Regions from separate parts of the Homo sapiens genome. Here regions 1, 3, 4 and 5 are each reported to be linked to region 2. The links are microRNA targets in miRTarBase. Many come from high-throughput screens and were not tested one by one. Region 2 holds a microRNA gene; each other region holds the end of a gene's coding sequence.

Region 1 (3,192 bases), not on the chromosome of region 2:
CTCCTGGAGCGACACGTGGCCCTGCACAGTGCCAGCAATGGGACCCCCCCTGCAGGCACACCCCCAGGTGCCCGCGCTGGCCCCCCAGGCGTGGTGGCCTGCACGGAGGGGACCACTTACGTCTGCTCCGTCTGCCCAGCAAAGTTTGACCAAATCGAGCAGTTCAACGACCACATGAGGATGCATGTGTCTGACGGATAAGTAGTATCTTTCTCTCTTTCTTATGAACAAAACAAAACAACAACAAAAAACAAACAAACAAAAAAGCTATGGCACTAGAATTTAAGAAATGTTTTGGTTTCATTTTTACTTTCTGTTTTTGTTTTTGTTTCGTTTCATTTTGTACTACATGAAGAACTGTTTTTTGCCTGCTGGTACATTACATTTCCGGAGGCTTGGGTGAATAATAGTTTTCCCAGTCTCCCTCGGATGGTGGCCTTAAGGCCTGGTAGTGCTTCAAGAGGTCCACTGGTTGGATCTCTAGCTACTGGCCTCTAAATACAACCCTTCTTTACAAAAAAATCTTTTAAAAAAAAGTAAAAAAAAAAAAAAAATTTCCACTTGTGAAGAGCACTACAAAAAATATATAACAAAATCTAAAAGGCCTACTGTCTTTAAGTACACCGCTTGCAGTGTTTCAGTGGACATTTTCACAATTCTGGCCGCTTGGACTTCACAGTAACCAGTTAAAACTGTGGAATATCACTTCTGGTTGAAAACCCAGAGGAAAGGCCCTGCTGTTTTCCACCTACCACGTTGTCTGATTTCATAAAAGGGCTGTGGGGGTGGGAAGGGCAGTGGGTTCGGTGGTGTGGGAAAGAAAGACGAATGGCAGGCTTCTTCCCCAGATTCTGCCCGGGTCCACACACCCTGGCCCACCTTCTCCATATCCCCCTCTTGCAGCAGAAGCCAGGAAGACTTGGACAAGCAACAAGCAACAGTGGCTATCGTATTTATTCAGTGTCTTCGCTGAGCCACAGCCTCAGCACAATCAAGAGGGACTTTCATGAAAGGCAGGAATGCAGATAAAACAAAGATATCAGAAATTTGCACCTATGTTTCTAGGTACAAGAGAAGGATTATTTCCAACAATCTTTGCAAAAAAAAAAAAAGTGTCAGGATATATTCTTGTGGAAGAGAAAAAGAAAAAGAAATGGAGGGTGGGGGGAACAATAAAAAGTTCTTGAGGCTTTTTTAATTCAAAATTTTATAGAGGGGCAAAAGTGACGTTTACCAGATAGAATGCTGATTTTTTTAATATATTTACAACAGTATTTGTGTAAAAAAAAAAACAAAAAAAGTGAAATTGTTAAAAGTAATTTTTTTCATTTTGGTTTTGCATACACTGCCACCAATTCCTTCTCTTTTATTTTATTTCACACACATATATATATTTTTTGGTAAGTCAAGACTGTTAAGGTTAGCGATACTGCTTCCAGATAGAAAGAATAAAAGGCAACTAAAGTTATATTTGAAAGAGAGGAAGGATATTTTCTTCATATTTTTTTTAATTTTTCTTAATTTTTATTATTTTAAGTATTGCCTGGGTTGATGAGGGCCTCTGTGGCCAGCCCATCCCTGCTGTAATTTGAATTGCTGCTTTGTATTTTGATATGTAGTTCTTTGACTTTAGCAAGCTTAAGTTGCCCCACTGAATAATTTTTTCAACTGATTCATCTAGAATTCTGTTCTTTTTCATGGAAGAGACTTTATCTTTCAGAAAGAGATTGCTTGCTTCTCCAAAATTTCATTGAGATCTTACAATTCTAGAATTTCTATTGACTTTACTTTTTTTCTTAGTGAAACACTAATAGTCTAGAAGTCTTGATAAATGGGGTCTTTTCTTTTGTGATCAGCCAGGAAGAGGAGTTCACAAAACTCTGCCATAGCTCCTCACCCTTCCCAACTACAAAGAGCATCATTATGAGAAGCCTGTTATAGATCAAGATGCATTGATGCCAAAATTACTTTTTTCCTTCCAAATATCACCTTCTGACTGTTTCCACCATGGTTAAGAGGGCTGAATAAGATGATCATTCTTTAGATGACGAATTAACCCTTGCTTCTTCGAAAGGTTTTAGGGAAATTAACAAAAAAATTCCCAGATGCCAACAGCCACCATTCAAAAGACCACCAATCTATTGCATCATACCAGATGCCACTCTCTCTTCCTAGTAGGGATTTCTCTCCTCGGTCCTGATCAAGGTGTTATAATAGAGACATTTTCATTATAGACAGTGTCCTGAAGGGATTCCAGCTCAAATATAGGAATTCTTAAACCTAGCTGAAACTCCCAAAGTGATTTCATTGCTGGGCATATTTTAACATACTTAGGGGAAAGCAAATCTTTAAACAAAGCAAAACACCAAACTACAGTTTTAAAAAGAAGAAAGGAGAGCGTATTTTAGTTTCAAAATTACATTACATTTTAATTTAATTTTCCTTCTAATTTTCCTGTCAGCATTTTATTTACAAAAACTGTGCAGCAAACGAGGGAAAATCTTCCAACACAAACAACTCTGTAATGACTAAATTGGTTTTATTCATATATTTTAGACATTTGGTTAACTTGGATCTTTTTCATAAGTTCTTTGTGATGCTTTGTAAGGTTAGTGTAACTGAAGTGTTTGTGAGTTTGATTTGGTCCCACAGTGCTTAATTCAGTGGATATTTTGCTAGAAGTTTTAATGTAAACTTGGGTGGTTAACTGACTATTAAGTGTAACCTATTGTGATTTCTAAGAGGAGTCCTGCCAAGAACTGTATGTCCAAAACTGATCTGTTTTAACAGTTAGTGAGGAACAGCTTCCGAGATAAAGTAAGTTCATTTTTCTATTGCTAATTTTGCTTTTTAAAATAGCAGTGTTGTAAGACTAATATTTCCACTTACCACCAATAGAGGGAGCATTAATTAACTATGTCATGGAATTGTTTTGATATTTTGGAAAACAAGTGATTCCACCCATAAAATGAAAAGAGAAGATTGACCTTAAGAAAAAAACTCTTAAAGCTAGGAGACAATGACATGAAATCACTCAATACATGTTACAAATGAAAGAAGGCCAAAAGCCACTTTAAAATATTTTAAACTGTTTCACAGTAGATTTGAAAGTGTCTTTGTTCAAATTTAGCAAAGTAGGAAGAATTTTCACTAATACCGCCTGAAAAGTTGATCTTAGGTGCCATTATGGGC
Region 2 (3,000 bases):
AGCCCAAAGTAACAAACACCCTACCAACAATTGCCTGAAAATATTCTAGAATTAATTTTCACCTCAGTTGAACAATTTATTGACTTTTTTCCCTGCACGCCAGATGCCTATAGTCTCCCCTACAAACATCTTGTCTTTTCCATTTTTGTTCATATTTAGTTTTTGGCAACCACAGCTTGTATAATTACATTATGTTGGAGCAGGACCATATTAAGGAAACATTGCAAAGTACAAAAAATTTTCTTTGGCTCACCTCCCATCTGTAGTGTTTCATGGAGTAATAGCCTTTCTCTGCATCAAAGTCTTTCCTGGATTCCTGTGGTATTGTTCCCAGAATCTCCTCGTCTAAACTCTCCTGAAGCGTTAGCTCCTAAACACATATGTTACTATTTCTATGGGGCTTTTCCTTTACTAGGAATGGAAAACACTGTTGAGATGATCAGATATATACTGCTGATGAGGCAGCCACACTTACCAGCCAGAGGCCAGCTCTGCTTCTGAGGATACATAGAAAGTATATTCCAATAGCGGCCTTTGCATGTGTGCATTATAGCAGCATTCATATTTGAAGAAAGTCAAATTAAAGCATGCATATAAAACTTGTACTATTTGCAGTTTGAAGATTTTGCCCATGAATTTCAAATGTCTGCATGGAATCCCAAGTTATTTTCTCTTTATGGTATAAAAATGTTAAAGAGTGGGGAAGAGGAGGTAATGATCAAAATGCTCATGTGAGGAAACAACTAGGTATTTTATGAGAAAGACAAGCTTCCAAACACAGGTTAAACATGGCACTTTTCATCTCACCTGAAGCATGCTGGCCACTCCAGTCCACCAAATGCAGTTCCCTTGGGACCTACGCTGGATGGATACCCAAGGTCTCATGAGGTAAAGGCTAGGACACTTGCTCTTTCTGACCAGGCAGTGCTGTGGCTGATTAATATCCACCCAAAGCCACAATCACCTTCTGATCTGAGGAGCAGGTGACGGGGAGATTCTGAAGTCTCTTGATAAATTATGCAAACATAATCAAACAATACACATTGCAGGTTAAAAAAAAATTCAGTCACTGAAGTGGTTTGCTTTGTCCTTTAAAGAACTGAATCTAAATAGATTGTCATCAATCATTGGCAGTTCCTAGAATGACAACGCTGAGAAATTAGTATTACATGGGTACCATAGAAGAGCTATTTTCTTTCCTAGTGAAACGCTTGGGAAAGGAGAGAGGAAGGGAGAAAAATAAACAAGGCTTTTCTAACTACTGTTGGAATTTTCCTTTCTCTGTTCTTTCTTCAGATGAACCAGAAGACCAATTTAGTCCCAATATCCAATGCTTTCACATGACTACAGCTTATCCTAAGCCTTCCTTCCTCCTTGCCAATACAAAATACACACCTTTCAAGGATCTTTCAAGGCCTATATCAAAGGTCGAAATTTGCCTACTCCTAAGTCATTCATTTTGTAACGACATCAGTTTCTATGTGATTATATTATATATATATATATATATATATATATATATATATCCTTTTGTATATATATTCTAATTTTATATACTCTGTCTAAAGCTACAATATCTCCTTGCACAGAGTCACAAAATGTAAATTGAAATACATTATTGTTATTAGTTTGATTTTTGTGTTACCTCATCTTCACTATTTAGTAATCATCTTAAATGCAGTAACTTTTGACTTGTAAATGTTGGGCTTTTGACACAGAGTTGGTGTTAACAACATTATATGCAAAATGACTCACTTTACTATTTCATTCGCAATTCACAAAACAAAAAGTTAATTTGTATTCATTGAATAAGATAATACATAGACATATCAAAAATATATAATTTGTAGTTTATTTAGACTCAACATTGTTCCACAACATATCTAAAGCAGAAAGAAAAGATAAAAATATACACATTTATTTTTACAATAAATACTGTCAATAAGTTATCAACTAAATATTAAGGCACTTCTTAGATTAATAAAATTAATAAATTTCACATTGTGTAATATTGTTTTCATAATAGGAAGCCAGTGGTTTTCATTATTTTTCAATAGTCATCGTAGATATGATTATTGCAAATATAAGATATTTTGAATACATACAGTAATATAGTTTGGTGTTAAACAGTAGAGAGAAGAAGGATTTACTGGTCCTTCTGATTTCTTTTTTCACTTTTGTTGGATTATTTCAGGAATACCAGCAGGAATTAGTTTGCTATTATCATTTTATTTTCATAGAGAGGAAAGGAGAGAGTAGGTCAATTGGGATCAGTCTCCCAGGGCATATAAACCCGGCAGAGAGTGGCCCTCTTTAATCTCTGCTACCCTAGACATCAAAGGCTGCACTGCCACTATTCACAGAGATATGTCAGCATGTCCACAGGGGCCTGAACAATCATGCAGAGGTCCATGCTATGGCCTCTCTTGGGAAATCCCGCTCCCGACTTTATCTGGTATGCTCTCCCACCTCCCTCAAGATCTAACTTTGATGCAACTTCCTAGGCATCTCCATTATTTTATTTATTTATTTATTTATTTAGAGACGGAGTCTTGCTCTGTCACCCAACTGGAGTACAGTGGCACAATCTTGGCTCACTGCAACCTCTGCCTCCTGGGCTCAAGCGATTCTCATGCCTTAGTCTCCTGAGTAGCTGGGAATAAGGGATGCCAACATGTCCACCTAACTTTCGTATTTTTAGTTGAGACGGAATTTCACCATGTTGGCCAGGCTGGTTTTGAACTCCTGACCTCAAGTGATCCGCCTGCTTTGGCCTCACAAAGTGCTGGGATTTCAGGCGTGAGCCACTGTCCCCAGCCGGCATCTCCATTCTTGATCTGGGTATCAAGTCTCTGTACTTCGTGCTCACTATATACCTAGCCCATTCTGATTTATGCTTGCTATTCCCATGTCAAAACATTGCCCCATTTTACCCTCAACAGTGTCCATACTTGCAGGATAGATTATAGTCATGGGGTTCAGCTTAAAATCTGCCTTGAC
Region 3 (3,177 bases), not on the chromosome of region 2:
CTGGACTCACGACTCTGGCCCAAGATCCAGGGGCTGTTTAGCTCCGCCAACTCTCCCTTCCTCCCTGGCTTCAGCCAGTCCCTGACGCTGAGCACTGGCTTCCGAGTCATCAAGAAGAAGCTGTACAGCTCGGAACAGCTGCTCATTGAGGAGTGTTGAACTTCAACCTGAGGGGGCCGACAGTGCCCTCCAAGACAGAGACGACTGAACTTTTGGGGTGGAGACTAGAGGCAGGAGCTGAGGGACTGATTCCTGTGGTTGGAAAACTGAGGCAGCCACCTAAGGTGGAGGTGGGGGAATAGTGTTTCCCAGGAAGCTCATTGAGTTGTGTGCGGGTGGCTGTGCATTGGGGACACATACCCCTCAGTACTGTAGCATGAAACAAAGGCTTAGGGGCCAACAAGGCTTCCAGCTGGATGTGTGTGTAGCATGTACCTTATTATTTTTGTTACTGACAGTTAACAGTGGTGTGACATCCAGAGAGCAGCTGGGCTGCTCCCGCCCCAGCCCGGCCCAGGGTGAAGGAAGAGGCACGTGCTCCTCAGAGCAGCCGGAGGGAGGGGGGAGGTCGGAGGTCGTGGAGGTGGTTTGTGTATCTTACTGGTCTGAAGGGACCAAGTGTGTTTGTTGTTTGTTTTGTATCTTGTTTTTCTGATCGGAGCATCACTACTGACCTGTTGTAGGCAGCTATCTTACAGACGCATGAATGTAAGAGTAGGAAGGGGTGGGTGTCAGGGATCACTTGGGATCTTTGACACTTGAAAAATTACACCTGGCAGCTGCGTTTAAGCCTTCCCCCATCGTGTACTGCAGAGTTGAGCTGGCAGGGGAGGGGCTGAGAGGGTGGGGGCTGGAACCCCTCCCCGGGAGGAGTGCCATCTGGGTCTTCCATCTAGAACTGTTTACATGAAGATAAGATACTCACTGTTCATGAATACACTTGATGTTCAAGTATTAAGACCTATGCAATATTTTTTACTTTTCTAATAAACATGTTTGTTAAAACAGTTGGTTGAGTCTCTCATCAGTACCATGAAGTGAAAAGGAGGGAGATGGGTGCTAGTGAAAGGCAGGTCTCATCAGGCCCTGGGGTCCACCTGTGTGTTCCTCCATCCCTTTCCGGGACTGCCTGCCAGCCTGGTGACAGAGGTATGTGTACCGTGTGCCATCTGTGCCAAGAACCCTTGGCCCTGTGCTGGCTGAAGCTACTAGGAGAACACACTGGAAACCCCTGAAGGTAGGGGGTGAGTCAGACCTCCCACCGAGCCAGAGTCTCCAGAGGGAGAGCTCACCTGGCTGCCCCGGTTAGAAGGCCCAGACAGGAGGGCCCACTGAGCCCAAGGTCTTTAATAAACAGTGAAAGAACTAGAAAATACCTTTTTTCTTTCTGGGAGAAAAAAATCAGTTGTTCTACCATCATGAAAATTACAAATCTTATCTCTGGATTTAAAAAGACTAAGAGGGGGAGTTTGAAAAATGCTACTTAGCTCATGCCTCTCACTGGACAAGGAACCAAGAGGGGCATGAGCTGCCACTGGAAGGAAGTCTGGACCAGGCAGGTGCAGAACTCCTTGCACACACACAGGTGAGGGAAGGAGTGCTAAGGGCTTAGAGAGCAAGGAAATAGCAGGCCTACCTTAACGATACCTTGGGTCACCCAGACGTCCTCTGTGACCTGTTGTCCCAGCCACTTGGGATGCTGAAGCCAGAGGATTGCTTGAGTCCAGGAGTTCAAGGCTGCAGCCTGGGTGACAGCAAGACCCTGTCTCTAAAAACAAAAGATGCATTGTGCATTCTGGGCCCTAAGTTCCTTGTCAGAAAAATTGGCAAATTGGAGTTGGGCCAGATGAAGCCCAGGGCCTTTCCCCCTTCTTCCCTGGAATTACATCCACCCACACCAACTGGCATTTGGAGAGTTTTTATCTCCCTTGTTTCTCTTCCTGGTCCCAGACAGGCCTTGTTTGCTCAAGACTAAAACAGTGGCTCTTGCACTTGAGCGTGTGTAATCAGATCACATGGGCCCTCCTGGAGATTCTCAGTGCATCCGGGCCAGGGCCCCAGGAATCTGCATTTACATCAGGGATTCCAATAGAGGGTCCTAAACTTTACGATGACTTGGAAGACCCATCTCTCTTTGGTAGAACTGAGTGATTTGTTCCCCAAAATGGATAAACTTGGATTAGAAGTGCATTTGGAAATGGATAGTGAGAACAGTGAAGAAGGTGCCCAGACCAGTGTGAGGAAAGCCCTCACACCCATTTTCTTAGCACATCCTCCTAATAGCCACCCTGTGAGGGGTGGGTGGCGGCAGGGGTTTTTAATGTTTTACAGATTAGTAAATGGAGGCCCAAGCCCTGGAATGGTCATCTTCTTGGATAAGGGCTGACTTTGTCCACTCCCAGCCTATTGAGATTCAGGGCTGGGAGTAAAGCAAGCTTGACACCTGGGCTGAGTCTGAAGGGCACTTTCCCGGGAACTGAGATCTGTGCCAATGCTCACGACCCTGCCTCCCCAGTCTCAAAAGAGAAGCAAGGAAACAATTGTCTTCAGAGTACAGAGTCTTGTTGGTATTTGGGGGCCTGAGCTGGATGGATTGGTCAGCATTAGCCCTTCTCCAAGCCAAGGAGGCAGCTGAGCCCAGCACCGTACCTTTTCTTAGATAGTCAGACTGAGGCCAAATCAAAGCTTGGGTTCCCAAGCTAGCTCAGCTGAGATGCCCTCTCCCAGAGCCAAACTGGCTTCCCTCATTCTCACAGGGCCTGAAAATCCTCCTGCAGCAGGACAGAAGGGTCCGCAAGTGGGAGCCCTGAGCTTGAGTCTCACAGTAAAGGGAAGAGGGTTGCTGAGGCCCAAGACAGTTCTGGGTCCTGAGGTCTGCTAAGACATGGCAGGGAGCTTTGCCCCAGGTACCGGACTTGCTAAGAAAAAATGGGGCAGGCTTCTTTGTTGCTAAGCAGGAAAGCTAAGAAAGCTTATAAAGACCTACACATAAAATCAACTTTGGTAAATGCTTTCAGAAATTGTCCTATTTAGTGAGACCCTATCTGATAAAGAAAGGAAGGAAAGAAAAAAAAGAAAGGAAAGGAAAGGGGAAAGGAAAAAGGAAAGGAAAGGAAAAAGATTGCCCTATTTGGCCTGGAAAATATGTACTGATTACCTCCCTTCCTACAGGATTCC
Region 4 (3,000 bases), not on the chromosome of region 2:
GTGCCCAGTCATTTAATATTCTAAACACAATCTAAGTCTGATTATAAAATCAGAGTTAGAAAGGGTAATAAAAGCGTATTGGTTCATTCCTATATCTATAGGAAAGGTGTCAAAACTTCACAAGTTTCCAGATATGAGGATTTAAGAACCTCCCTAGTAACTCAATAAATTATACTGTCAGAAGAAAAATCCCAAATATCCAACTTTGAGTCCTATTTGATTTTCACTAACATAGATAGTAACCATTGAGATGCCTGATAAGTTATTTAATAATCTTTCAACCTCTTCTTTTTATATCCTTTAAATGTGTGTGTGTGCACGTGTGTGTGTGTGTGTGTGTATGTGTGTGTGTAGATCATCAGAAAACTAAAGGTTTGCAGAGAGAAAATGTGAAAATAATTAAAACACAAGAAAAAATCTCACATCATCTTTGCAGGTTTTTTGAGGCAAAGAATGTTCTAAAATCTACTGGAAGCACTGATTTTTGTCACTATTGGTTCTTTTCTTAATCTTCCCCAAGTTTACAATTTTCAACATCAACAATAGCCACAATATCAACACATTTGTGTGATAATAATTTAATAAACATTCAAATATCATCAGTCCTTCGGGATTCACATGCACCTGGAAAACCAGTATGCTCCAAATCCCTTGGAACATTAACAACACGAAGGAGAAAAAAAATTAATTAATTTTATTAATCAAACTCTGATAGTTAATAGTTAAGAAGTTATTCTGCACGCCCAGTCAAATATGACTTAAGGAACTTTACAATGGATGGGAATAATGTATATTCTGAAAACGCTACTTAACCTGCTGGGCACATGAAAAGAAACTTTCTCAATATTCAAAGGAAATCCTCACCAATGAAATTATGCAATTACCACAGTTTATGTTACAAAATTACAGTTTAATCATAAATTAAATATCAAGTTATACATTACAAAATCTATGTCTAAGTTAATCAATAGGAGATATTGACTCCCCCCCAACCCCAACCGCCCCCATTAAACATCAATTGTCTCTTGGTTTAGTGTTATACTGAAACAAGGTATTTTCTCAGTTTTGCTATGGAAGAAAATCAAGTTGGTGATGTTTCTGTACATTTATAAAATGTGCACATACAAGATAATGGCCAGTTAAGAGGATAAAAGAAGGAAATAACAGACAACAGGAGAAAACTAATGTTTTCTATGAATAGTACTGTTTCTTTGCTTAGAAGAATATATTTTATTTCATATATGAGATTTTGATGGTTTTTGTTCTGTGTGTGTTATTGGTATTTCTTCTTGACTGCAAGAAGCAGTCATGTGCCTTATTTCTCCCTCTGCATTTTTCCTTAAAATTCTGTTTGATGTAGATTTATAATTACATTTCTTGAAAAGTTCCTTCCTGATATTCTTGTTGTTATTAGTGGTTTTCTTCAGTAAGTTGAGCTAGAATAACAAAAATCCCTTAGTCTTATAGATTTAGTATGTGGTTTTATCTACAGTTACATGTATTTGTTATTTTTACTGAACACCCTTTGGTAACAGCCTATTGAGCTGTCAAATCAACATTTAAATCTTCCTGAGTTTCTCTACAAAATAGTAGTTTACCGTCGATATTTTAAGTGACTCGTGCTTTGGATGCATCCACCTCCTTTTAATTTTCTAGGCTGTTACATACAAATTCCCAGAAGTAAAGACCCAAGTAATAATGGACTACAGGCTTAAAATGTCAGATACAGTTTTATTTCTGATGTACTTTACACTAAACTATTAAAGTAAAAAGGGGCCCTTTTTAACAAATAGTTGCTTAATTAGGGCAGTTATTGCACTTCTGTGTCTCGAACTCTACTAAAGAGTAGAGAAATAGGTTGTAGATCTAGATCTGTACAGTTTATACATATTCTTTATTGAAAATGTATATACAAATTTTATCAACAATATAGTATTGGAATAAGGTAGAAAACATGACAGCAGAGAGACACAAACAAGCAGTATTTACACTACCTACTGTGTATTTTGAAGGGAGACTCACTAACAACAACAAAAAAACTGAAAACCACAAACAAAAATCAAAAAGAAAGCCCCAAAAAAGGCTAGAGTACGTATACCTTTTAACATTATCTGAACAAAAGTTTAGGTAAACTAAAGGTAAACTTAGAAAATAAGATATTTCTAGGCTTTCCATTTGCTACATACTGGTTCCACACAATCAGCATGGAAACAAATCAGTAATATTGCACATGATGATAAAAACAACAAAAAATACTGTACATCAGAAATAGTACGCTCTGTCATGATAAGCCTTACTGTACAAGGGGATGCAAATTGTTAAATTCCTTTTCTTTTTAAATACACATTCTGAATTAAACAAATTGCAATTTTTTGGTTAACTATTGACTAAGGGTCTAGCTGTAGATTTATTCTGGTATCTGTTTCTATTTACATAGTTATTTACAAATCTGATAATCAGAATACTCATTGGAATTGTATCTTAAATTTTGACTATATACATCTTTTCTGAAAATTTGAAGTAACTATTTTAGCTTTACAAGGGATGTGTTTCCATAATGGGGGAATCACCTCTGGACGGTCTGGCCTGTTGGCGTGGAGCGAAGGTTGTCAAAGGAATGACTTTAATTGAATCATCACTGGGATGAAGTCTTTCAGACATGGTGTAAAACTGAGATGTTGCACTACCTTGCACTCCCTGATCAACAGAGCATAGTCCATTAGCACCTTGCACCCAACCTTGCTGCAAACTGACTGATGATTGGGCCTGACTACGATGGAGGGCAATAACCTGTGGCAGAGAAGAGCTGTGGCTGATTGCAGCAGCCTGTGCTAAAGGAGGGCTGTAGCAGAGGGCTGAGGCCTGTGCTGATGGTGGGCTGTGGTGAAGTGCAGTACCCTGCACTAGAGGAGGACTGTGGTGGAGAGCAGACACCTGTATCGGTGGTGGGCTGTGGCACAATGCGATGGTCTGTGTCACTGGAGGGCTGTGGCAGAGAAC
Region 5 (3,194 bases), not on the chromosome of region 2:
TCTCCTGCCTTCCGAGTAGCTGGGATAACAGGCGCCAGTAACCACACCCAGCTAATTTTTGTATTTTTAGTAGAGATGGGGTTTCTTCATGTTGGCCAGGCTGGTCTCGAACTTCTGACCTCAGGTGATCCAACTGCTTCGGCCTCCCAAGGTGCTGGGATTACAGGCGTGAGCCACCACGCCCAGCTTTAATTTCTGGTTTAAGAGTGGAGGCCAGGCGCGGAAATGGGGAAATGGAGTTTCCCTATGTTGCTTAGGGTAGTTTTGAACTCCTGGGTTCAAGTGATCGTCCCATGTGGGCCTCCCAAAGTGCTGGGATTACAGGCGTGAGCCAACATGCCCAGCTTTAATTTCTGGTTTAAGAAGAGTGGAGGCCAGGCGCGGAAATGGGGAAATGGAGCTTCCCTATGTTGCTTAGGGTAGTTTTGAACTCCTGGGTTCAAGTGATCCTCCCATGTTGGCGTCCCAAAGTGCTCGGATTACTGGCTTGAGCCACCATGCCTGGCCAGAGCCACTTTGGGAAGAGCAGTCTATACTTACCCTTTGTTTTTTTGTGACGGAATTTTGCCCTGTCACTCAGGCTGGAGTGCAGTGGCATGATCTCGGCCCACTGCAACCTGCACCTCCTGGGTTTAAGGGATTCTCCCGCCTCAGCCTCCGGAGTAGCTGGGTTATAGGCACCCAGCTAATGTTTGTATTTTTAGTAGAGACGGGGTTTTGTCATGTTGGCCAGGCTGGTCTCCAACTCCTGACCTCAGGTGATCCACCCACCTCGCCTTCCCAAAGTGATGGGATTACAGGCATGACCCAATATGCCTGGCTTTTTTTTTTTTTTTTTTTTTTTGAGACAGGGTCTTGCTCTGTTGCTCCGGCTGGATTGCAGTGGTACAATCATAGCTGTGAGTTTGAACTCCCAGGCTCAAGTGATCCTCTCGCCTCAGCCTCCCAGGTAGCTGGAACTAAAGGCATGTGCCACCATGCCTAATATTTTTTGTATTTTTTGTACAGACCTGGTCTCCCTATGTTGCTCAGGCTGGTCTCAAACTCCTGGGCTCAAGTAGTCTTCCCACCTCGGCCTCCCAAAAGTGCTGGGATTACAGACATGAGCCACTGATACCCAACACTAACCTGGCTAAGGTCACCCAGGCTGTAGAGAGGTAGAGCTGGGACAATGGCCTTTATCTGACTCCAGCATCCTCAGGATTTCCTCCCTTATCTGTAGAATGTGGATAAGATGACCAAGAACACATCCTAGAGGGCACGATAGCCAGGATAGGACTGTTCTAGGAACACACACGAGGCGTGTTAAAGAAGACTCAGAAAGATGAAAACCAGGAAAGAGCCCTGTGGCCGAGATCTACTCTGTATCCTAGAGTATTTTATGTACTTTTTGAAGCATTTTTTCACCAGTACTTAATAGCAACTGTTAGATCAAGCATTAGCTCCAGAGGAGTAAAAATCAGATTCCACAGATTTGTACTAATGTATCTAACACAGGTGGTAATGGCTTTTAAAAAAAAAAAAATGAAAAACAGTCCAGGCCGGGCGCGGTGGCTCACGCCTGTAATCCCAGCGCTTTGGGAGGCCGTGGCGGGCAGATCACGAGGTCAGGAGTTCCAGACCAGCCTGGCCAACATGGTGAAACCAAGTCTCTACTAAAAATACAAAAAAATTAGCCAGGCATGGTGGCAGGTGCCTGGAATCCCAGCTACTCAGAAGACTGAGGCAGAAGAATCCCTTGAACCCAGGAGGCAGAGATTGCAGTAAGCCAAGACTGCACCACTGCATTCTAGCCCAGGCAACGGAGCGAGACTCCGTCTCAAAAAAGTCCAAACACACTAGGGGTTAAATAAGCTGCTTCTCTTTCCACTGTTTATTATTAATGTACAAAATATACAAAACCAAAAAAAAAAATACTCATCCTCAAATCCATTTTGGCTCTAACCCAAGACCCTGCACAAAACCCAACCAATCCACTGTTTTCATAGAAAACAACTGATGCCAAAGTGAAGGAGAGAACTGGGAAAGGGCAAAATCATCTTGTTGAATCCACCCAGGAAGGCGCCTGGTGGGGATTCAGAGGTGGTTGACAGGGTGAAGTACCTGGAAGCCTCCTTCACGCTGGCAAGGTTCCAGGTGGGAGCAGGGAGTGAGCTGACTCCCAAAGGCAGTGCATGTAGTGTGACTTTCAGGCCCAGCACGCCGGGCCCAAGTTGATGAGAAGCTGGTCTCACTGAAGTATTTTATCAAGTCTCCAGACTGGCTATAGTTGGCAAAGGCAGACCAGCACCACCGGTCTCACCTCTGCCAGCTAAAACTTGCACCGGATGCAGATACGAGTTCGCCATCATCGAACCTAGCAGACCCAGGACGCAGACTGGGTGTTCACAGAAAGTTGAAGGTCCCACTTGAGAAAGGACTAAGAATGGTGAGCCCACGCTGGGGGAGGGGTGGGGATGATGTGTGTTCCAGAACTCAAATCCAGCTGATTGAGCCCTCTCAGTGCAGTGGGATATACAATACCCCTTTCAGCATCTCCCCACCCCATGAGGAATAATGAACTTAGCTGGGATGATTTCTTAAGTGCAGCTGATCCTGTGTCAGAGTTCTGTGTGCATGTGGGGACCCGCAATAGAAGGGTAGGGGTGTTCGCCAGGATAACCAGCTTTAGGTTCTCAAGCATTAAGGGTAATACTGGAAAGGGGTTTGGGGTACAGGGCGAATCTTCTCAAAAAGTGAAGCCAACTGGGTCTCCTCTTCAGCAGTCCAGGAACGTTTCCAGTCTCTCTCCTCCCCAGACTGGAGGAAAATATGTACATCAATGCGCACCAGTGATCAGAAAACCCCCAGGAACCCAAGCAAGTGGGAACTGAGGGGGCCGGCTCCTCATCAGCTGGGGAAAAGGGAAAATGGGCCTCACAGAAGCCATAACAGGGTGGAAAGAGCGAGGCTGCAGTCCACAGGGGTTGTGTGAACAGGGCAGGCAAATGGTCCCTAGGGCAGGGGGGGCCCATTGACACCCGGGTGGTAGAAGGCACAGTTGTTCTCATAGCGGCAGTTGCCCTTCATCATGAAATGTCGGCAGACAGGGCGGTTTGACATGTCTGTGGGAACGATGGCAAAACAGTTAGACAGGAAATAGCTGAGGGCAATGCCACCCTCACCACCCCTTGTCCATGACATCCTGAGAACTG

Evidence for each region. Region 2 holds the annotated microRNA hsa-miR-383-5p (AGAUCAGAAGGUGAUUGUGGCU, at 953-974, opposite strand). A microRNA usually pairs through its seed, bases 2 to 8, with sites in the 3' UTR of a target mRNA and lowers its output. Matches are read on the target gene's strand: a 7mer-m8 pairs with bases 2 to 8, a 7mer-A1 pairs with bases 2 to 7 and ends in A, and an 8mer does both.
Region 1: the mRNA of ZBTB20 is a reported target of hsa-miR-383-5p. Seed matches in the 3' UTR shown: 7mer-A1 at 2,197-2,203.
Region 3: miRTarBase lists DDIT4 as a target of hsa-miR-383-5p. Seed matches in the 3' UTR shown: 7mer-m8 at 651-657.
Region 4: miRTarBase lists PCDH11Y as a target of hsa-miR-383-5p. The part of its 3' UTR that is shown has no 7-base or 8-base seed match.
Region 5: the mRNA of PPP1R10 is a reported target of hsa-miR-383-5p. Seed matches in the 3' UTR shown: 8mer at 2,833-2,840.

Annotation. Positions count from the first base shown.
Region 1 is chr3:114,336,014-114,339,205 of GRCh38, reverse strand. It overlaps ZBTB20 (zinc finger and BTB domain containing 20), which reads left to right. Exons shown (of 12, transcript NM_001348800.3): 12 at 1-3,192. The coding sequence ends at 201. Among named protein-coding and RNA genes, the nearest start is that of ZBTB20-AS1, 14 kb to the left of the region's middle.
Region 2 is chr8:14,852,531-14,855,530 of GRCh38, forward strand. It overlaps MIR383 (microRNA 383), which reads right to left and starts at 980; the gene lies at 908-980. All of the region lies in intron 1 of SGCZ (sarcoglycan zeta), which reads right to left.
Region 3 is chr10:72,275,030-72,278,206 of GRCh38, forward strand. DDIT4 (DNA damage inducible transcript 4) reads left to right here. Exons shown (of 3, transcript NM_019058.4): 3 at 1-1,007. The coding sequence ends at 159. Among named protein-coding and RNA genes, the nearest start is that of DDIT4, 2.7 kb to the left of the region's middle. RefSeq lists an enhancer at 538-1,061.
Region 4 is chrY:5,737,478-5,740,477 of GRCh38, reverse strand. PCDH11Y (protocadherin 11 Y-linked) reads right to left here. Exons shown (of 6, transcript NM_001395587.1): 6 at 1-3,000. The coding sequence ends at 2,536. Among named protein-coding and RNA genes, the nearest start is that of TTTY23B, 500 kb to the left of the region's middle.
Region 5 is chr6:30,598,555-30,601,748 of GRCh38, forward strand. PPP1R10 (protein phosphatase 1 regulatory subunit 10) reads right to left here. Exons shown (of 20, transcript NM_002714.4): 20 at 1,859-3,104. The coding sequence ends at 2,995. Among named protein-coding and RNA genes, the nearest start is that of MIR877, 16 kb to the left of the region's middle.